Regions from separate parts of the Homo sapiens genome. Here all the other regions are linked to region 3. Evidence: fine-mapped expression QTL. A gene starts in region 3. Each other region holds a variant in brackets. All regions are shown on one strand. Distances are from middle to middle.

Region 1 (7,412 bases), 310 kb before region 3:
TTTTTAAATTTTTAGATATTATCCAGTTGGGAGGCCCAGAGCTCCCTCTTCAAGAACTTCCCCATCATTTCCCCCCGCTGTGGCCCCTGAAGTTCTCCAGGGAGAACCCCAGAAGTCTCATTCACACCTGGGCTGTGTACTTCACCCAGCATCCCTTGTCAGTATGCACAGAGCCTGCTTAGTTCTGGCAGTGCTGAAGCCAGATTGAGAACCACAGCAGAAAAGGCTGAGAGGCTGAGTCCTGAGTTGGTAGCTGGTGGGGAGGTGGGGGGGCGGGGGAGGGGTCTTGAGCATGCCTGTATGTTTGCTCATCTGTAAGAGTAATTAAAATCCTTCCTTTGCAGGGTGATTGTGAACATCTGGTGAGAGAATGGATGTGAAGGTCTTTTTAGCAACATTAGAACACTACAAAAATCACACATCTGAGTGAGTATGGACTCATACCTGGACTTGGGGGGTAAATGCAGAAATAGCTCTTGAGGGCTTGCAGTCTTAAGAAATGGCCTGGAGGGGAAAGGTTCTAATGCTTCTGAAGACCCAGCACCTTCATCCTTAGATATTGCTGCTCCTTCTGGCTGGGCAGGCCAAGTGCAGACTGCACTGTGGCAACCTGGAAGGGCAGCATCTACCTGACCAGGGAAGGAGGAGGCCCTGTTGGGCTTTCCAGCCTCAGAATTGAGACCTCCTCATCATCAGTCACCTAATGAAGATCCCCTGAGTGCCAGGCACTCGGTGACAACACTGAGCAGTAACCCTGAAGCAATGCCAAGCTTGAGTACCCTTTTTGAGACAGAGTCCTACTCTGTCACCCAGGCTGCAGTACAGTGGCACAATCTTGGCTCACTGCAGCTTCTGCCTCCTGAGTTCAAGAGATTCTCCTGCCTCACCCTCCCAAGTAGCTGGGATTACAGGCACCCGCCACCATGTCCCACTAATTTTTTGTATTTTTAGTAGAGATGGGGTTTTACCATGTTAGCCAGGCTGGTCTTGAACTCCTGACCTCATGTGATCCACCCACCTCAGCCTCCCAAAGTGCTGGGATTACATGCGTGAGCCACCGCACCCCAGCTGAGAGTCCCCTTTCAGAAAGGCCTTTGCTTTTAGGTGCAAACACTTCTGAGGCTCAACAGGTCTGAAGTAACCATGGTCTTCGGTTTACTTCTACCTATACATTGCTGGACAGCTCTTCTTCTACTGGCCCGATTTTGCTATTGGAGCATAATTTCCCATGATAAAGTTGAAGGAAATGACCAGCTTCTCTGCCTGATGTGTCTGAATCCTTAGTCTGATTCTAGAACACACCTTGCCATACATGCCATTTCCCCTGACAAAAATAATGTTTACATTGTAGGGTCCCTAGGGGCAGACAGAGATCACTGAGCAGCAGCTAGAAAGTAACTAGGACTTTGGAGCTCCTCCAGTGACCCACATTCTGCGTGAGGCCCACTGGGTTCTCACCAGCATCCCCCCGAGGTGGGCATGTCAGCTGTGAAAGACCAAAAAGCACATGGGAAATGTGAAGAACTGAAGTCCTCTGCCTTGGGGTCATGCAGATCAGACTTGCCTTGGCCTGACTGTTGTTAGTGGAAGGTATAGGAAAAAAGTCTACAAATCAGTCGGAACTGCAGTACAGAGTTTCGTAATTTATGTATTCAAATTTCTTTCCAGATGATTTAATGGAGGGAGAAACAGATAGCTTCCCTGTCGTCTTTACTGGCAATCTGCATGCTGAGAAAGCTCAGCTGTCAGAGAAGAGGCAATGCTTTTCTGGAGAACGCTTCCAGGCAACATGCGTGAACACACGTGCCCCACATAGCTCAGCTTCCCTGCCACCAAAGTGTAGTGATGCTTCCAGGAGGGACAAAACCAAACCAGAGACAGAAATGCATACAGAATTATTTTATTTAACTTAAACCATGTAGTACTTTACTAGAAAAAAGCAGAGTAAGAGAAACTAACGTTGCCTTAGCTTCAGCCATTCAAAATAGACAGTTTCTTTTTTCCATTATGTAAAGAATCCAGAGTATATCGCAATAACAGGAATAAATTCTTACAACAGAATATACAAAAACATTTTGAAATTTTTTTCATCTACTGATTTTTTATATAAACAGGATTTTTTAGGAATAATTTATACACAGAAAGTCATTTTATGTAACAAATTGGCCATGTTATTACCTTTTTTTTTCTTACTTAAAAAAATTTTTTTTTAACAAGAAAACTCAGAAAATGCATTATTTGCGGTGCATCCATTCCATCCCGCCTTCTGGTTTGATTTTTTTTATCCCAGACAAAGGGATACCCAGAGGTAGACAAACTCTGGCAAACCTCTCACCTCAACCTCACTGGCTTAGAAAGCAGACAGGTGTTTTCACCGGGCGTCTCTTCCACCGGTGGATGTGTGTGTGCAACGCCAAACATCCAAATGAAAAGTTGAAAACAAAACCCAAATAGTTTCCAGATCTTTCTCCTATGTAGCGCAAAAACCCCAGGTGTTTCCCATGATAGAGATATTGTGGAGTTGGGGAGACATGGCCAACAATCCACTGGAGTTAGAGGAAGTGGAGTCAACTTTAAAACCAATTTTTGTGTATGTTATAGTTTTTATTAAAAATTCTTTTCTGTATTGGAAATACGTATCTTCGGGGTTCTGCCTTAAATAAAATAGGGTCTCTTCTGTGTTCTAACAAAGCAGTAATCAGTCATGATACGAGGCATGTAAGCAAATGGCCTGTGTGCCCCATAGCTGTCATCGTTTATGTGATCACTGTGTATGCTGTAATCATCATGAAAACCATTGGCTGTGCAGTCAAGTCTTCCCATGTCCATGGCACTGTGCTGACAATGACGGCAGCCAGACCAATCAAGCCAGATGCCGAACGGTGCCATGCACTGCTGGGCTCCAACACCTCGGCTGTTTCCATGGCCAATGAGGTTCTTTCCATCTGTTAAAGTAGCTACACTCCAAAGGGAAATGACCAGTAAAAAATGATCCCCTTCCCAACCAGAGGGTTCTGGAAGACCAAGATACTGAAGATACAGAACTACTTTTTAAATCATCATCATTCCTTTGTTATAAACTAGGGCAAAAAGCATGGGGGGAAAAGAGGGTGAACCACGGATGGGGTCAGGGAGAAATCCTTTTTTGGCATATTGTAAAGCTAGCTAGTAAACAGGTGTCCTAAAAAAAAAAAAAAAAAATGGATCACAAACACACATTTGCACACACAGAGAAAAAAAAAGTGTCTTTAAATTATTTTCGGCAATTATAAACTACAAACATTTTATAAAATTATTCTGTTCTTACAAAAATGCAATGAAACATTTAATTAGTTCTTGTAAACCAGATCTTCGTCAACTGACTACCCGTAATCTACTGGACTTAAGAGCCCTATTGAAAACGCTAATGAGTGACTAGTTAAAACAATGTTGACCAGAAAGATGCGGACACACACACGTGGGACATAAAAATGAGTGATCGTTATGTTCTCGCAGAAACAAAACGCTAAAGTCATGCCCCAGAACTGACAACTGACGAGTGCGATGTAGTTTGTGTTCTTGAACAATTCGCCTTAACTCCGAGATCAGTTTCCAGAGTAGGATGTTAGGTTTCTTTGTTGAAACCAAATGCCCACGGATGACTGCTGAGCCTCGATGTGGTCTGATAGCTTCAAGAACAATCAAGTTCAAAACCTTGCCCACATTCCTTCCAAGCCCTGCACCCTGCTGCTCGTAACTCTTCTCTGTGCCAGGATCCCTGTGACAATGGTTCTGTACCCACCACCCGGTCATTCCACCATCAAGGAGCACTCACTTCTCCAAATGACGCAACCAGTCATCTAAGATGAAGGCCAAAAATGAAACCCTCTGACCTGTCCAAGGTCTGTATCTTCAGCATCTCTGGCAACAGAGGTTCAGTCTAAATAACATCCTCTCTTGAAGTTCTCATTTGTACCACCAGCTACTTCAGAGTGAAGAAAGAAAGTGTCTTTCGCCACTGGTTCTTAAGGAGTGGATCTCTGGTCCACATCTCCCAATGCTGCTTAGCCCAGGAAATGAAGACAGCTGACAACACAGAGGAACATTAACGAAAAGAACAAACCCCAAACTTGAAATGCATAACTGGGACTGCTGGAATGGGCCAAGGCATACCACGGCGGGTCACTGTCACCAGGAGGGCGCCTGTGTTTTAGAAGGGAGTGGCCAACACCGTCTGGCCA[C/A]CCTGGAAGGAGCCAACGTGACAGCTAAGAACACTAGACAAGCATCCTAGCCTTCTCACCCATCGATCTCAGTGTGATCTTGCCACAGAGCCACTGGCAAGCCATTCGGCTGCCAGCCTGCAGAGGTGGACTGCTGTGGGAAAAGCTTCAGTGGAACAAACTGGCCTAGAATCTGGTGCCAGAGAATAGTTGGCTCATAAATCTTTTATCCCAAAGCACCCCAATGTGCACCGAGCATCTCGCCATTTGGTAGTTCCACAGTGACTGCTCTTCTATTTTACGAAGCCACTTTTCGTACCATTGAAATGTGACTCCGCATCTTAAGAAACAGGCCAGGAGAGGCCAGGTCGGCCACGAACACGGTCTTCCATCTTCCAAGGAGGAGGCTCGTTCCAAAGGTATGTCAAACGTCATGACATCCCACGAAGGAGACCTGGGGTGGTCTGGGTCTTGATCAAGTTCAACAGTGTCTCCAGTACACACCAGCTCCTGCTGCCTCAGGGAAGGGCTGTGTGGGAGAACGTCTTAATGCTCACATCAATTCCATGATGTGCCTCAGTGGTTCATATGACTTCAAGCAGTGTGAGCTGCTGGCAGAAGGAGGTTGCATGGAAAATGCCACAACTCAGCTTAAGATTATTTGGAACACACAGAGAAAAATCAAGAGGCAGAGAAATCAGCATGAAGTTAGGCTAGAACTGTGGATAGATGATGCCTTGGTATAGTCAAGGTGGGTGGGTTGGTCCAGTAAAGTGACTGCACCATCACACAAGCCAAGTTTTCTCTTTTATTGAGGTGTTTCTGAAGCATTTGCTATGATGGGCACTACACTGTTAGTGTTTTCTACTTAAAAGCTACCTACATAAAACAAAAACAAAATGACATCAGTAACTCGGACAGTTTAAACAAAACCCTTATAACCAGCTGAATGATCTGTAGAAATCCAGTTGTGGAAACCGGTAGGTATGTGCACGAGAGGAGAGGCCGTTATTCCAAGGGGTCACCTACAGTGTGGAAGAACAAAACCCTGATCCAACAGTATTTCTCAATGACCTTAAGATCCCCGGGGTCCTGGGAGAGATGGGTCGCGTTCCAGCAGGAGGCTCCTGAGCGCCTTCACTTAGGCTGGAATTGCCGAGGAGCCATCCACGCTTAGGCAAAGCTGCCCGCCACACTTCCCAGCGAAATCATCAGTGCCTGTAAGAGCAGCTGCTGGAAGAGGGGAGCGAGCCGTCTGTCCTGTGAGCAGCAGGACCAGGGAGACGGAGGTACAGCCCTGGCGGGGGGGGCGTGACGCCACGAGCCTCGGCGCCGGCCACTGGGCTTTCCAGCCGGAAGGTTTGGTACATCTCTGTCTACCCCTAGGGAAGGAGGTGAGGGAGAAGTTGAGAGGGCAGCCTGGAGGGGGAGGGGACTCTGCTCCTGCGTGTGTTCTATCAGGGACTGGCTGTGAGGTCAGGAGCCTCTGCATTCTGGCGCACAGGCTGGGTGACTCTTGCTCTCCAGCTGCTGCTGCAGCTGCACCTTTGTGCTCAATGAATGCAGCAGCCATGGCCGCACGGTCCTGCCTCAGCGCGAGCCTCCTGCAGGGATGGAGCAGCAGCAAGGGGAGCAAACCCAATGCCCCACGCCTTTACCCTGGGGATTCGCACAGAGATGGTGCTGCCTGGACACCTTCCTCTCCTCAGAACCTGAGGAACCACTGCTCTCTTAAGGACGAAATGTGTTGGTCATTCCATCTGCACAGAAGCAGTTTGTTCCAAAGACAACCAGCCAGGGACAGCCTGGTGGCTCCCCCAGGTGTGCTCTGGTGCCCTCGTTGGCCTCACAGGGCCACCTGGCTAGGAGGAGGAGAAATCTAACACCTTGGTGGAAACCAAGATAGAAAACAAAACAAAAAAAGCAACACAAAACAGGACATCTCAGAAAAAGGCAAGCTGTCTGAAATGAGCAGAGAGGTGAGTTAGTGTTGCTTTGACCCCGGAATACAGCCTGGCTTCCCCCTGCATCACCTGGGTGTGGCGCCTGTGGCGTGGATGAGGTTACCAGTATCAACGGCCTATTGTCAGGTGCTGAGAAAGGTGAGATGTATTCTTTTGTCTATATACACATATAAAAAATAAGAGTGAGGTAGATAAATGTTTGGGGGAAAAAAAACCCAAAAAATCAAGAACTGTCCCATCACTCTCACACACACACACCCCACACATACACACACACACACCCTTTCCTTGAAATTTAAATTCATAATGGGGCTTTTCTACAGTGATTGAAACTGGTAATTTATCACAAAATAAATTAAAAGAAAACTCCTACATATAATACCTTTTTTTTTTTTTTAAAGGGAACACGCTATGGGATAGAGACTAGAGAAAGCAGTGGGACAAACTGCTGACCAGCAAAAAAGCCGTATAAACTTTCTTTTCTGTGTTGAATCTTCAGTCACAACTAGCAATCACCGTATCCCAGCTTTGTTCTTACTCCTAAACATTTCTATCCCAGAAGCAACTCTTGTGCTGTCATCTCTCTGGTGAGAAGTGCTAAAAATGAAACAAGACAAGACCCCTGGGCCCCAAGGACCTGGATTCCTGGCCGAGGGAAAGTGGGCCAGCACCACAGCCCTGGTCCCCCAGCAAGAAGCAAAGGGGCTCTTGGGCCACCGTGGCGTCTGTGCTGCCTCCACCTAGCACTCCAGCGGGCACAGCCCTGAGGGTGCCGCCCTGGGCCAGCCTGGATCCCGGGGTCCCACTCAACGCCAGTGCGAAGGAGTTCCCTTGGGATGTTCTGGTTCCAAAGACAGGTCAGTCGGTCCGGTGAGGGGGGTGGCGAGGGCCACAACAGGCCCTGCCGGACCACGCTCTGCTGCTCCCTTGGACTCAGCAGCTGTTTTTCGTGGGATGGAAGGATTAAATAGCCATTAAGAAAAATAGTAATCCAAATGCCTAGTGTCTGCGGTTAACACTGCTGTTGTACCCAAGAATTAAAAAAATATATATATATGTGTGTCACAACCTAAGCAAAGGCAAGGGAAAGAGAGGGTGAGGCTTCTCAACCACGGTGAGTGGAAACACTGAACAAAGACGTGTGAAATATTTAACCTTTGTTTTTCTGACCTGAGTTTGTATCATGTCTTGCACTGTAACAGGCTCCAATGCTGTGAGGGCAGGCTGGGGAGAGGAGCGCGGCCCTCTC
Region 2 (7,412 bases), 100 kb after region 3:
TGGTTACAGCTGCAGAATCCCGGCCCCACCCCGCCTCCAGAGCACGAGCCTGCGCTAGAAGGATATCACCAGGGGATGGGGGGGAATGCGAGGGGGGCGGGGAGGTGGTCACGGATGCAGAGGCTGTCCTGGCTGCTGAGGCAAAAAGCCCGTCCCAAGCCCTGCATGGGCTCCTACTGCACTTCAGGATTTGGGGGAATGCAGAATCGTGGTCTTTGAGTTTTCATTAATTCAATAAAGATTTCTCAAAAGCCTAAATTCTAGACCCAAGACAGTGGGAATTAAACAGGGCTGAATATGACGCTATTGGCTATACCAGGACCACGCCTGAGCATTGCATGCACGCTCCAGCTATGCATAACTTATTTATTTTAAAAGAAGGAAGGAAGAGAGGGAGGGAAACAAGGTGTTTCTTAAGAGTAGAGGAGGGGAGAGGCAACTTGTTGCTTTCACTGGCAACAGTTAACTCCATAAGCAATTTCCTCACTTAAAAGAAAAACAAATGAAGTAGAGTGGTAGGCTTTTGAAAGGAGGAGCAGAGAGCTCCGGTGAGTGGAAACCTAGCTTTTATTCACCTTAGGGCCTTGTTAAAACACATTTGCCTTGAGATAAAAGGGTTTCTTTTGGGACGATCCCAAAATGACTTTGCTTGATTCAATTAAGCAAGACCTAACGAAAGAGAATTCCAGCTTAAGATACGCATCATCTCACCAGGTGAGTTGTAAATACATTCTGACCAGGTTTCAGAGGCAAGCTCTTGAAAATTTAATCTATTTAAAAACTGCATATCCTTGCCACAAATTGCTTTGAAGAAGATCGCTGAGCTGATTGCATGCTGAGATAATTATTCTGTATCACCACTTAGGGAACAAGATTTTTTGATAAATACTACAGTGTCAGTCTTTGTTAATGACTTGGGAGGGGAAGGAAAGGATTCGATATAGCTGAGGCTGGTTTTATTTTCTTGCCTCTTTCCCATGAACGCAGGCTGTGGGAAGCAGGTAGAGTCTTGGTTTATGAACTCTGAACGCTATTGAGTAACCTATTCACCTGTCAAATCCCTAATCCCCGCATGAAGGTGTACAGATGGTATTGGAGTAGAACACGAAACTGAGAGGTGAAGCCAGCCGGACTTCTGGGTCGGGTGGCAACTTGGAGAACTTTTATATCTTACAAGAGGATTGTAAAACGCACCAATGGGCGCTCTGTAGCTAGCTAGAGGTTTGTAAAATGCACCGATCAGTGCTCTGTAAAAATGCACCAATAGGCGCTCTGTAGCTAGAGGTTTGTAAAATGGACCAATCAGCACTCTGTAAAATGGACCAATCAGCAGGACATGGGCGGGGACAGATAAGGGAATAAAAGCTGGCTACCCCCCAGCCAGCAGAGGCAACCTGCTTGGGTCCCGTTGCATGTTGTGGGATATCTGTTCTTTTGCTCTTCACATTAAGTCTTGCGGCTGCTCACTGTTTGGGTCTGTGCCATCTGTAAGGGCTGTGACACTCACTGTGAAGGTCTGCGGTTCCATTCTTGAAGGCAGCGAGACCAGGAACCCACCAGAAGGAACAAACCCCAGACACAAAACCAGTCTCCACCTGCGCAGGGCCCTGCCTGTGCCTTACCTGCTTCCCCTCCTGGAGACTCCCACCTGTGAATGGATAGATGGTAGTGTGTTGCTGGGTGCTGATGGGGGAAAGCCCTAGCCTGTACCCCCGTTATGGATAATATGGAAGTCAGGGTTCTCAGGTGCTGGTGAGCCAGGCCTCCCCACATCCTACGTATGACAGCACAGGCTCATTTCTCAGTGCTCTGCCCCACTGAGCCTGGATGTGACCTCAGAGGAGTCCTTAGCACTGTGATTAATCTCTTCATGCTTTTCTTCCTTTTTTTTTTAGACAGGGTCTCTCTCTGTCATCCAGGCTGGAGTACAGTGGCACCACTGTAGCTCACTGCAACCTCCGCCTCCTGAGGTCAAGTGATTCTCCCACCTCAGCCTCCCTAGTAGCTGGACTACAGGCGTACACCATCACACCCAGCTAATTTGTGTATTTTTTGGTAGAGACAGGGTTTCGCCACGTTGCCCAGGCTGATATCCCAACTCCTGGCATCAAGAGATCTGCCTGCCTCAGCCTCCCAAATTGCTGGGATTACAGGCATGAACCACTGTGCCTGGCCTCATTCTTTCAATAACTTAATAAATACTTATTAGGAATCTATTCTATACAAGTCGCTGATAACATAGAAGAAAAGAGAAAGAAAGAAATATAGATGGATGAATGGTGCATAGAAATAATACAAAGCACTAGGACAATGGTTAGTGGTTGGGAGGAGTAACTTTAGATATTGTAGTCAAGGAAAGCCTCTCTGAGGAGGTAACATGAGGAAGAGTTATTTCAAAAGCCAGAGGGGAAAGCCAGGCCCAAACAAAACAACAAAACAGGCCGGGTGCGGTGGTTCACACCTATAATCCCAGCACTTTGGGACGCCCAGGTGGGCAGATCACAAGGTCAGGAGTTTCAGACCAGCCTGGCCAATAAGGTGAAACCCTGTCTCTACTAAAAATACAAAAATTAGCCAGGCATGGTGGCGTGTTCCTGTAGTCCCAGCTACTCAGGAGGCTGAGGCAGGAGAATCACTTGAACCCAGGAGGCAGAGGTTGCAGTGAGCCGAGATCATGCCACTGCACTCCAGCCTGGGTGACAGAGCAAGATTCCATCTCAAAAACAAAAACAACCAAAACAACAACAACAACAACAAAAACTGTGTGTGCAAAGGCCCTGAGGCAGGAATGAACCTAACATGATCAAAAACCTGGCTCAGAACATGGACCCAGTGAACCACTTTGGACACTTGATGGGCATTTGATGGGTTGCCTCCGTGTGATCTCTAATTCTTGATGACTAGGCTGAAGTGGGAGCTGGACTCATAGGTGTGTAGACGGGGGTCTGTAGTCCCATGTGGCTATTCATTCTCACCGAGGCAGCATTTCTGGTGAAGTTATAGCTGGATGGTATTTCATGGTCAACTTTAGTTTTAATGGGAGGTATGTGAGGAAGCAATATAGTATAATGGCTAGAATCAGAAGATCTTGATTGAGATCATAGCTCTTCTTACTGGTTTTCTGACCATGGACAAATAGTTTACATACCTTATACCTCAGTTTTCCCTTGGAAGTAATGATAAAACTATCTGTCTCACGGGGCAAAAAACAAATCACTGAATGGCTAAATCACCAAACAATTCACCAAACTTAGCAATTTACCAAAGCCTTGCATTAAACCAGTTTTTAGATATTTTAAATGAATATGAATATTCTTCAAAATATACGTACTTATTATGTATTTGATATACATTAAGAATATTTAGAAATGTAAAGCATGTTTGTAGCTCATTAATATATTCTTCATGAATATTACAGTTTAATAAAGGGAGTGTTAGAAAATAATCTCTATATGCTTAAATTATTTTTTAGCAATAATCATAACAAAATTAATAACAAAAATAGAAAATAAATGCAAACACTGGAAATTTCCTTATATTGAATCTTTACATAATCTTGTCAATAAAATGAATAAAAATAAGTTATCATGCAAAAAAAGGGAAAAAACTCAATCCAGCTATTCAATCAGTTTTATATTTACTAAAGATTAAACGTTGATATTTTGGTTACAGTCTCATGTAATATTATTTTATGTAAGTGTTCAGTAACTAGTAAGTGAATTTTAATAAAACCAAATTGTGTAAAAGGTAGAGTTTAGTCAATTACTAATGTAACAATTTTTTAAAATTTGTCCTTTAGTTTT[G/T]TTTTGTTTTGTTTTGTTTTGTTTTGAGACAGAGTCTCGCTCTGTTGCCCAGGCTGGAGTGCAGTGGCACTATCTCTGCTCACTGCAAGCTTTGCCTCCCAGGTTCACACCATTCTACTGCCTCAGCCTCCTGAGTAGCTGGGATTACAGGCGCCCACCACCACATCCGGCTAATTTTTTGTATTTCTTAATAGAGATGGGGTTTCACTGTGTTAGCCAGGGTGGTCGCAATCTCCTGACCTCATGATCCGCCTGCCTTGGCCTCCCAAAGTGCTGGGATTACAGGAGTGAGCCACTGTGCCCGGCCTTGTCCTTTAGTTTAAAACCAACAACAATTAGAAGAAAAGAATAAACTTAAGTGTCAAATTTAGTCAAATATTTTATGCATGGACTAAAATTTGCATTCATCAAACAAAAATATTACACCTTGTACTTCTCACTGTTTCACTGTTTCAAATTTTAAAACACAAATCAAAACTCACACAGTTACATAGAGTGAGAGAATTGAGCTACATCAAATTCTGTTTTCTTTCTCCATTATCAGTGTGCTATCAGTGTTTACTTTGATTCTACACTTTAAAGGCAGCAGGCATAAATAGTATCACAGGGCGGGAAATGCTAGCTGAGCCACTCCACATTGTTATAGTAACAAACATCTCAAAAACAAACAAACAAACCCTATTGCTTGGGTTCATCTGTGGAGGACTGGCTGTAATTAGGAATTTTCTGAATTAAGTTACATGTAGAATGATAATGCTTATTAAAGGATAAGTAATTAGAATGTGTTAATTTGAAGCTTACATGCATATCACTCAAACTCAACAGTAGTCCCTGCAATTGTTTAGAACTTAAACCAAAGAATATTTGAGGAGGGGAGGTGACTTTTATCACTGATGTTATTTAGAACTGCCAGGGCATGGCATGGTAAAGAGAAGATCAATTTTTGGTTTGTTTTATTCTTGTTTTTAAATTATTGCCAGTGTACCCCTCCTACCATGCTCTCAGTATCCTACTGCATTTAGTAACCAGTAACACCATTACTCTCTATAATTGTGGTATCTGCTGTAATGGATGTCACAGGGTCCTCTGAGGTAGAGGGTCCAGGTGCACCTAGGAGGACTTCCTTGAAGAAGGGATTTTTTTTTTTTTTTTTTTTAAACAGGGCTCTGTCACCTAGGCTGGAGTGCAGTGGTGCAATCATAGCTCTCTGCAGCCTCAAACTCCTGGGCTCAGGTGATCCTCCCACTTCAGCCTCCTGAGTAGCTGGGACTATAGGTGCATGCCACTAATGCCCAGCTAATTTAATTTAATGGTTTTTTTTTTTGGTAGAGATGGGAGATCTTACTATGTTGCCCAGGCTGATCTTGAACTCCTGGCCTCAAGCAATCCTCCGACCACGGCCTCCTAAGTAGCTAAGACCACAGGTGTGAGCCATTGCATCCGGTTAAGAAGGGATTTTTAAAGAATGATTTAGTATTATTTACATACTATAAAATTCACCTCTTAAAGTTTTGCAGTTCACAGAGTTTTATAACCATCAGTACTATCTAATTTCAGAACATTTTTATCAACCCAGAAAGAAATTCTGTCCCGCTGAGCAGTCATTTTCCAGGACCCCCACCCCAGGCCCTGGCAACCACAGGTGTGCTTTGTGTGAAGAGAGGCTCTTCAGCTGGGACCTGAGGTGTGGACAGAAGTCAACTTGTCAGGTAGTGAGGGAAGGGAGACAACAGCGTGAACAGTATCTAGCAGAGCAGAGGTGAAGGCAAGAAATCAACAGACCTGCGTGGCCAGGGCACAGAATATGAAGGTGAGTGGCTTGAGCATGCCGGGGAAGACCCAGCCCACGGGGACTTTGCTGGTTCTCCTAGTAGCAAGGGGGCCCTGAGGTCTGACGCAGAGCCTTCCCTGCGATACCGGCTCAGAAAACACGGCAGGAACTACCCTGTAAATACACCTTTCATAGTCTTTTAAAACATCATAAGGATTGCTTTATTTTATTTTTATTTTTAGATATTTATTTATTTATTTTTATTTTTGTTTTTTTTGAGACGGAATCTCTCTCTGTTGCCTAGGCTGGAGTGCAGTGGCGCGATCTCTGCTCACTGCAACCTCCACTTCCCGGGCTCCAGCAATTCTCAAGCAAGCCTCCTGAGTAGCTGGGACTACAGGGTGCACTCCACCACGCCTGACGAATTTTTGTATTTTTAATAGAGACGGGATTTCATCATGTTGGCCAGGCTGGTCTCGAATTCCTGCCCTCAAGTGATCCACTCGTCTCGGCCTCCCAAAGGGCTGGGATTACAGGCATGAGACACCGCGCCCGGCTGGATTGCTTTATTTTAAATATTTACAACATAACATCAGAAATAGGAGAGACATATACGTGTGCTCCCGCCGTTGTGGTGTAATCTTACTGTCTTGTAGAAATCTGGCTTGGACGTTTAGACTGCACAAATAGCCATGCTAAACCTGCAAATCAGCTGTAACCGATTTTCTCAGGAATCACCAACCCCAAACTTGGAACTCCTTGTGGAGTTTTGACAGAATGAGGGATGGAACTCAGATTAAAGATCTGGAGGATGGAGCAGACATTCAGAGCAAGTTCTTTCTCATTTGAATTTCTTCCTACTGACTTTTTCTTTTTTAAATTTGATTGCTTGCTTGGTTGTTTTTATTGTTTTGTTTATTTGTTTGTTTGTTTTTAGAAACAAGGTCTTGCTCTGTCGCCCAGCCTGGAGTGCAGTGGTGTGATTACAACTCACTACAGCCTCCGACTCCTGGGCCCAGGTGATCCTCCCCTCTCAGCCTCTCAAGTACCTGGGACTATAGGTTCACCACCTCGCCAGGTTAATTTCTTTATTTTTGTAGAGACGGGGGTCTCACTATTTGATATTGAGGCCAGGCTGGTGTTGAACTCCTGGTCTCAAATGATCCTCCTGCCTCAGCCTCCCAAAGTGCTAGGATTACAGGTGTGAGCCACCATCACCACGCCCAACCCTGTTGTTTTTTTTTTAATTTGAAATTTAATTCATCCACTTGGTTCCTCTGGGAAGACTTTGGATTCCCCTTCGGGACCAGATGCAGACCAAAAGTCTCAGTCCTTGCCCCACCGCTGGCTACTCTGTTCCATCCCACATCCCCATAACCACTTTTATTAGTTTCCTGTGTATTATTCTTGTGTTGTTTATGCAAATACATGCCAACATGAATATGCAATCTTATGTCTCCCTTTTCTTTCAGAAAAGATAGCATACTATTCTAAGACTTGCTTTCCCCCCTGACTATACTATGGAGAATTTTCCTTATTAGGATACAGAACACCCCTCATTCATTTTTTCTGACAGTTGCATAGTGTTACAAGGTTTATTTAACCGCTGTCCCATTGATGGACACTTGAGATGTTTCCAATATTCCTCCTTGTGATAATGTTACGATGATGGATCTTGTTCATGCATAATTTTGTCCATGTGCAGCTGTGACTGAATTCCCAGAGGTGGGATCACCGGGCAACAGTAGTACATTAGCCATTCTGATAAATGTTTAAGTACCAGATTGCCCTCCACAAGAGTGGAACCATTTTGTCTTTCCATGAGCTACGTTTGTCCA
Region 3 (6,533 bases):
GCACCACCTGCATACCCTCGGCAACCATTACTCACCAACACGCCCTCACCGTTCCCAGTCCCAGTTCTGCGACATTTAAACTTTTAATCGTGTTCAAATTACCCTACCATCTTGAATGTACCAGTAAGCCACACTTTCAACTTTTTCAGAAGAATAAAACCCCCACCTCCTCCGGCCGTAGACACCGGGGGGAGTTCTCGCTCCCCGCATCCCCGCGCTTCCCTACTAACCCCCACCCGACACCACCAAAACAAAAGCTATCAGATTGCAAAAGACAGCGAATGTGGAGCGACACTGCTTATTAACTACGTACAAAGGAAGTGCGGGGCGGCAGAAGAGAGGGCGACACGACGCCGACCACAACAAAACCAAGGCCAGGGCTCCGCGCTCGCAAAACACAACACCCTCCCCGCGCCGCCGCAGACCCTGGCGCTGAAACCACAGCGTACGACACCTCTCGCCAGGGACGGGCGTCTAGGTGTCCCCGTGAGGCGGCGACTACACCCCGCGCTGCGAGCACGTGTGTCGGAATGCACGTCGGCTCCGACCACACACCCACCAACGCACACTCGGATGCGGCCCTAGTACCCCTCCATCCCCCGGCCCGGGAGAAACTGGGAGACCATCCCAGAGCCCTCTGAACTGGGGACCCAGTGGCGCTCCCCGGAAGAGACAAGCTGAGGAAGACTCCCGGCCTCGCACTTCCCGGGGGGCTGCCCAGAGAGCGCTTCCCCTCACCCCACCGCCCAGCCCCGGGACGCCGGGGGCAGGTAACCCAACGAGGAGCGGGCCAAAGTGACGGGCAAGGCCAGGAACCCGAGGAGCCCGAGGGGCAAAAGCACGTTGGGCGACGGGAGGCAGCGACGGGCGCTTGGAGACGTGTCCTGGGGCTTCGGGGCCTCTCCGCAGGGCACCTCCCCCCTCGAGGGCAACTCGCACCCCGCGGGCCGGGCGGCTGCCCGCTCCCCACTGCCCGGTCAGCCCCAGCAGCGGAGACGCGGTGCGGCCCAGGGTGCTGTCGCTGCTGCCTGCGCGCCGCAGGGGATCAGCGCTGTGTGCGGAGAGGCTCTTGCGCATGGAAGGGGCGAGGTGCGGGTCGCGGGGCCCGGGAACCGCGGAGCCCGCCCCGGCACCAACTTCCCTACCGAGTCCTCGCGCCTAGCCGGGAAACACGGCTGGGCTGTCAGGACGGAGAAAGAGAAAAGCCCTTCCCGCGCGGGGATGCGCGGAGCCAGGGCCCGCGGGGCTCCAGACGAACGAGCCCGGGTCCCGGGTCCGCTGCAGCCTCCCTCCCGGCAGAGCCGCCCTGCGCCCCACCCCGCCGCTCCCGAGCCCGGGGGCCCGACAGCTGCGACGGTGGCAACTCGGGTTTCGCAAACAGGGCGCAGCCCCTCGGAGGAAAAGTTCCCGCAGTGGCCGCGGGCGGCGGGCACATACTCACTTTCTCCACTCGTCGGCCAGAGCGAGAGCGCGGCGGAGAGAAACAGGAGCCCCCACAGCGAGGTCGGGGACCCTCCTCCGGAGCCAGACTTCATTCCTTTTATTTGGGATGAAATTCCCCTTTCTCAAAAAAAAAAAAAAAAAAAAAAAAGAAAAGAAAAGAAAAAAAGGAAATGAAAGGAAACAAGTCTCAAACTCAGTCTTCGCTCCCCCTCCAAAAACAAGGGCGAAGGAAACAATACTCCGAAGGCGGCGCCGCCGGGGCCCTCCGGGTGCGCGGACGGGGCGGGCGGCGCGGGGCGGCCCCTCAGCGCCGGCAGCAGCGGCCCAGGGCTCGGCGGAGTCGGGAACCCGAGGCGCGCCGGGGCGGGCTGTCGGCGTCGTCGGCCTCCATTTTCAAACCCGGAGAGGCAGGAAGGGGGGAAAACTGCAAAGAAAGGGGGCAAAGCCCAAATCTGCCTAGGCGAGGAAAAACAAGCCCGGCCCTGGCCGCGCGGGAGGCGGCCGGACGCCCGAGCTTCCGCCGCGGGAGGGCGCGACGCAGTTCGCAAGATCGCCCCGAAGTCCGGGTCACAGGCGAGGCCGGCGAGGGGCAGAAACGCGGAGTCAAAATGAATGAGCGGCTCCCCCTCCTCCTCCTCCTCCTGGCTCCGCTCGCCGCCGCCTCCTCCCTCAGCGCCGCCGCCGCCGCGGCGAGCTCCTTCCCAAATCCAGGACACACACAAAGCGGCGGGCCGGCCGCGCCGCGCTCAGCACTCCCGCCGCGCCGCCCGGCTCTGCGCCGCCGCCCGCCCCGCGCCGGCCCCCGCCCGGCCCCCGCCCGCCGCCGCCTGCTCTGCGCGGGGGCTCCGGCTCGCTGAAGGTCACAGCCGAGGCGAGGCGCGCCGTGGAGCTGCCCCCGCGCGGGAGGGGCGTGGAGGGCGCGGGGGGATCCGGGGAGCGGGGCCGAGGGTCTGCGAGCGCCGGCCGTGGGCAGGCTCGCTGGCGGCGTCCCTCTCGCTCTCCCGCCTCTCTCGAGTTCGCCTGGTGCGCTCGCTCCTCCTCGGGTTTTTTCCCTTTTTTTTTCCGCTCAGCGGAGTTAATGCTGGTAAACAAGAGCCCCAGCCTCGCCGCGCCGCCGCCGCCGCTGCCACACACTGGGGGCTCGCGCGCGCGCGCGCGCCCTGGCCCGCGCACACGCGCCCGCTCGCACACTCGAGCGGCCACCGCCGCAGCAGCGGCGCGCCGAGGGCCCGGCCCAGGCCGGCGCGCGCAAAAAACCGGAGCCCGGTTCCCCAAGACGTGCGGAGCGGAGCCCGGGCGTGGGGCGCGAGACTGCGAGGCGCCGCCCCCATCTCCCGCCCCACCGCCTCCCGCGCGCACACAGAGACACGCGCGCGTGCCCACCCGCTCCCGCCCCCACCGCACTGCGCCGGCCACCCCGCACGCGCCCTCCCCTCCCGCCCGACTCCAAAAACAATGCCCCCGCCGCCGGTCCGGTCTCGGCGGGGCAGGGGTGGGTAGCCAGGGAAAGGCTAGGCAGGGGAGGGGTGGGCAGGAGAGGGGAGGGGTGGGCGGGGAGTGCGGGGCTGGGAGAGGTTCATTGAAAACAACAACAGCGCGGCTGGAAAGCGCGTTTCCCCGGTTCTTGAAAAGCTTCATTGTTTCTTGCAGCTGTTGCAAAATAAATAAATGCGTGCATGCGGCATTTTTTTCGCTGCGTACTGGAAAGCCCGAACGTGGCGGAAGGGGCGCACCTGGGAGAAAGGGGACCCCCCCCCCAGGCTACTACGCCGGGCACTTTCACGCCAGGCTGGGGTGCCCGCGGCGTTGCGACCGTGGAGCCCGGAGTTTGGGGGCTCAGGGGGAGCGGAGGGGGAAGGGCGCGGCCCGTGTGGCTCGGCCCAGAGTGGCTCGAGGAGAGAGGACCCCGCCGCCCCTCGCGGGCCCCGCGCCCCGGAAGGGGGGCCCAGACAGGCAGCGCCGCGTGCCCCGGGCGCGTCCCCGCGGCGGCCGCCAGAGGGCGCGGCGGGCGCTGGGGAGGGCAGCCCGCGGAGAGTCGCCTCCCTCCCTCCGGGGGAGGAAATGTGGGGGCCCGGGCTGGGGGCCGACTCGGCTGGGTCGCGCTGGCGTGGCCTCCCGGACCAGCCGCCCGCCCTGAGCGCTCTCCGCGGCCTCGCGCAGCTCAGGGCTCCACCACGTGGGCGGCTGCGGGGAGCGGCCGGGGCGCGTGCACGCTGCGGGTCTCCGAAGCTCGGGGGGCGTGTCCGGGTCCCGGGGCGCCGAGGAGGGGGTGGAGGCTGGGGCCGGGAAGCCTCCCTTGGCCGCGGTCCCGACCCGGGAACACGCCGCATGCACTCGGGATCAGCGGCTACTGCGGAAACCCACCCGCACCTGTCTCGGGTCCTCCCAGGCACGTTCCTCTTGCTTCGTTTGCTACGTAAGTGACTGGAAACCAGTACCGACCCTAAGTCTCCGCGGTTGTTTTCTTGAATGTGCAGGAGGAGAGGTTTCCCCAAAGCGAGACTCCCCTAGGACTGCCATCTAATGAATAAATGCTGCGGAGACCAGGTCCTCAAAGAGGGAAACAGCCCAGCAGTGGCAGGAGAGAGGAGTTTGAAATACGTGGACTTTTACAAACAGTGATTGGACCATGTGTCGCCCTTAATGTGGTCCGGTTTCATGACTCAGGCTAATTGATGCCAGTAATAAATTTTTTTAAGATAGCTAATAAAAGAGTTGTGAATTGTCGAGATAAGAAGTGGTTGTCTCAAACAATCGGGTAGGATGGTAGAAGGGACCTGATGTAAAGGAAGGTAGTAGGTTTCTTTTACTCTCTAATTCTAAAATACTTCTGCATTAGAACGTGTATCCATCGTTCGTAAATAATTTTTTAAGAGCTGAAAACAAGTCAAAAGCTATCATAACGGAAACTTAGCCCTTTTTTTCTAAAGTTGTTTCCTAGATCATTTTCCTCCTTGGAAATTTCTAGCTCAATTCAGAGTCAGTTGTATAGAAAGAAAATAAACCTTGTTTTACCTAAGAAAGTTATTCATATGATGGGATGGTTTTGTTTAACTGAAATTCAGCTTGATTTTTAAATAAAGAGTTTCAGTTTTGGATGTTCCTAGATTTAACAGTGAAATAAATTTATTAGAATCTTAAAATGTATTATTTAAAAATTAGGCACTACACATGAAGAATTAAAGTCCAGTCTACTAATTTTTAAATATTTCTTAAGTTCTCTGCATGAGGTTGGTCTTGATTCCTGCAGATCCACTCTGGAGTTAAATGCAAAGGAATATTGATATATAATTTCATTATACTTGATTTCAGAATTTTTAATACATACTTGTAAGACAAAAATTTAGAGCTGATTTTTAAAAGGCTAGTGCTAATATAAAATCTTCAAATACTACCCAATGTATTTTTAGTATTAGTAATAAATATGCCTGTTTATTTGTCCCCAAGAACATAAAGAGGTCTATAGAATTTTTAAATGTATATAGGTTGTTGTAGGGGTTGTAGGATTTGTTTTTGTGTGTTTTTTTTTTACTAAAATGATTTTTATTTGTGAATTTTTTAAATGTTTGTGTTTTCCTGAAGTAGTAGGAAATCAATCGTATTAAGTTATTTTAAACAGTGAAGTGGGAGATGTATCATTATATAGCTTAATATTTAGGGAAAAAAAAGGAACAAAAATTTAGGTTGTCTTTACGCTCTAACTTGACCACATGGACAAAGGAGGTGATTTGTATTTCTTCAATGATTATATTTTACATACACAAGTCAAACTTATTTTTTCAACCTTGAAATAAAATCATGTAGACAAAAATTAATTGGAGTCTTTGCTTTATACCCACATTGACAATGCACCAAACTTTTTATTTTATACCATTTTACTCAGGTATCTTATAGGTTCTCCCTCTTTTGGAGCAGAAACTGATTGCTTGTTTTCATTTTTTAAAAACGCCGTTTACTTGATAACAGTTTCATCTCAAATTATTCTGCTAAATGTACCAGACTCCCCAAAAAATGTAATGTATATCATATACATCAAGTGCAAACGTGAGAAACAGCACAACAATTGACAAGTATCAAGTAATACAGTATATTGTGATGTATTCGCAGAAAGGAATGTTAGCAGCAAAAGTGAATAAACTACAGCCCCACACAACATGGGCAGATCTTTGAAACACACTGAGTAAAAATATACAAATATCAAAAACGCACACAGCGTAACACCATTTTGATAAAGCTCTTAAAAAGCAAGGAAAACTTTAAAAGTTACAGAAAATTTTTTTTGCTTTAAATAATAAAATAATATTTTTCCTTTGTTTTGCTTTTGTTTTAGCAAAAGAATTAATGAAGGATGTGAATTCCTTTGGAGAGGATGAGAAGCCCATAGGCACATGGGTTTCCATTGTAATTTGGAAATGAGTTCACTCTTGGATTGAGTGACGGATTTACAAATTTCCATTTTATAAGTATGCTTAATAACTAACACATGTTCTACATATTTTTGTATGTATAAAACATTAAAGAAGATAAATAAAAATATGGGAGAGATCCATGAAAGAGATCATTCTGGTTTTCCAATGGGAGTCGTTCAGATTTCGAGCTGTCCGTATAAATAACTCAGAAGCATTAAAGATCTACTAAAATAACACAGTTAATCAAGGTCTGATCCTTAAGATATTTCAGAAGAATGTCCACACATCTAATATCGATGCAATTTAAGACAAAAATCAAAAGACAAAAAATTTAAAAGACCTCACTTCACAGGTAATAAGCTTCATTAAGAGTGCATTATGTCAACTGTTTGACAGTTTCTTATAAGGTAAAACATACAACTAACTTACGATCCAGCAAGTCTAGCCCTAGTTATTTACCCAAAAGAAATGAAAATTCCACAAAAATACTTCTATGGGAATGTCAATAGGTGCTTTGTTCATAATAGCAAAAACTAAAACAACCCAAATGTAAATCAAAAGGAGAATGGATAAACAAATCATGATATATCCATTCAATGCAATACTGCTTAGCAGTAAAAAGGAATGGACTACTAATCCATGCAAAAACATAAATGAGTCTCCAAAGCATAATGTATAAGC

Which allele goes with the higher level. Alleles are on the strand shown, and positions count from the first base shown. SD is a standard deviation of normalised expression in the study named. Not every link is listed here.
For the expression in monocytes after LPS of the gene that starts at base 2,578 in region 3, T is the high allele of the variant in region 2 and G is the other (large effect, 1.0 SD a copy in Quach 2016).

The links. PIP is the estimated chance that this variant, and not a neighbour inherited with it, causes the effect. A credible set is the group of variants that fine-mapping cannot tell apart.
Region 1: its variant is the best candidate, but not a certain one, in a credible set for the expression of IGF1R in lung (TOPMed, PIP 0.69).
Region 2: its variant is the best candidate, but not a certain one, in a credible set for the expression of IGF1R in monocytes after LPS (Quach 2016, PIP 0.84).

What each region holds. Positions count from the first base shown.
Region 1 is chr15:98,959,003-98,966,414 of GRCh38, reverse strand. IGF1R (insulin like growth factor 1 receptor) reads right to left here. Exons shown (of 21, transcript NM_000875.5): 21 at 1,885-7,412. Among named protein-coding and RNA genes, the nearest start is that of PGPEP1L, 45 kb to the left of the region's middle. The variant C/A (reference allele first, on the strand shown) is at 4,221.
Region 2 is chr15:98,540,457-98,547,868 of GRCh38, reverse strand. No RefSeq gene overlaps it. Among named protein-coding and RNA genes, the nearest start is that of IGF1R, 100 kb to the left of the region's middle. The variant G/T (reference allele first, on the strand shown) is at 3,804.
Region 3 is chr15:98,644,584-98,651,116 of GRCh38, reverse strand. IGF1R (insulin like growth factor 1 receptor) reads right to left here and starts at 2,578. Exons shown (of 21, transcript NM_000875.5): 1 at 1,442-2,578. The coding sequence starts at 1,535. It overlaps IRAIN (IGF1R antisense imprinted non-protein coding RNA), which reads left to right and starts at 330. Exons shown (of 1, transcript NR_126453.2): 1 at 330-5,254. RefSeq lists silencers at 2,554-2,823, 3,194-3,253, 3,314-3,783, 3,794-3,843 and an enhancer at 3,855-4,476.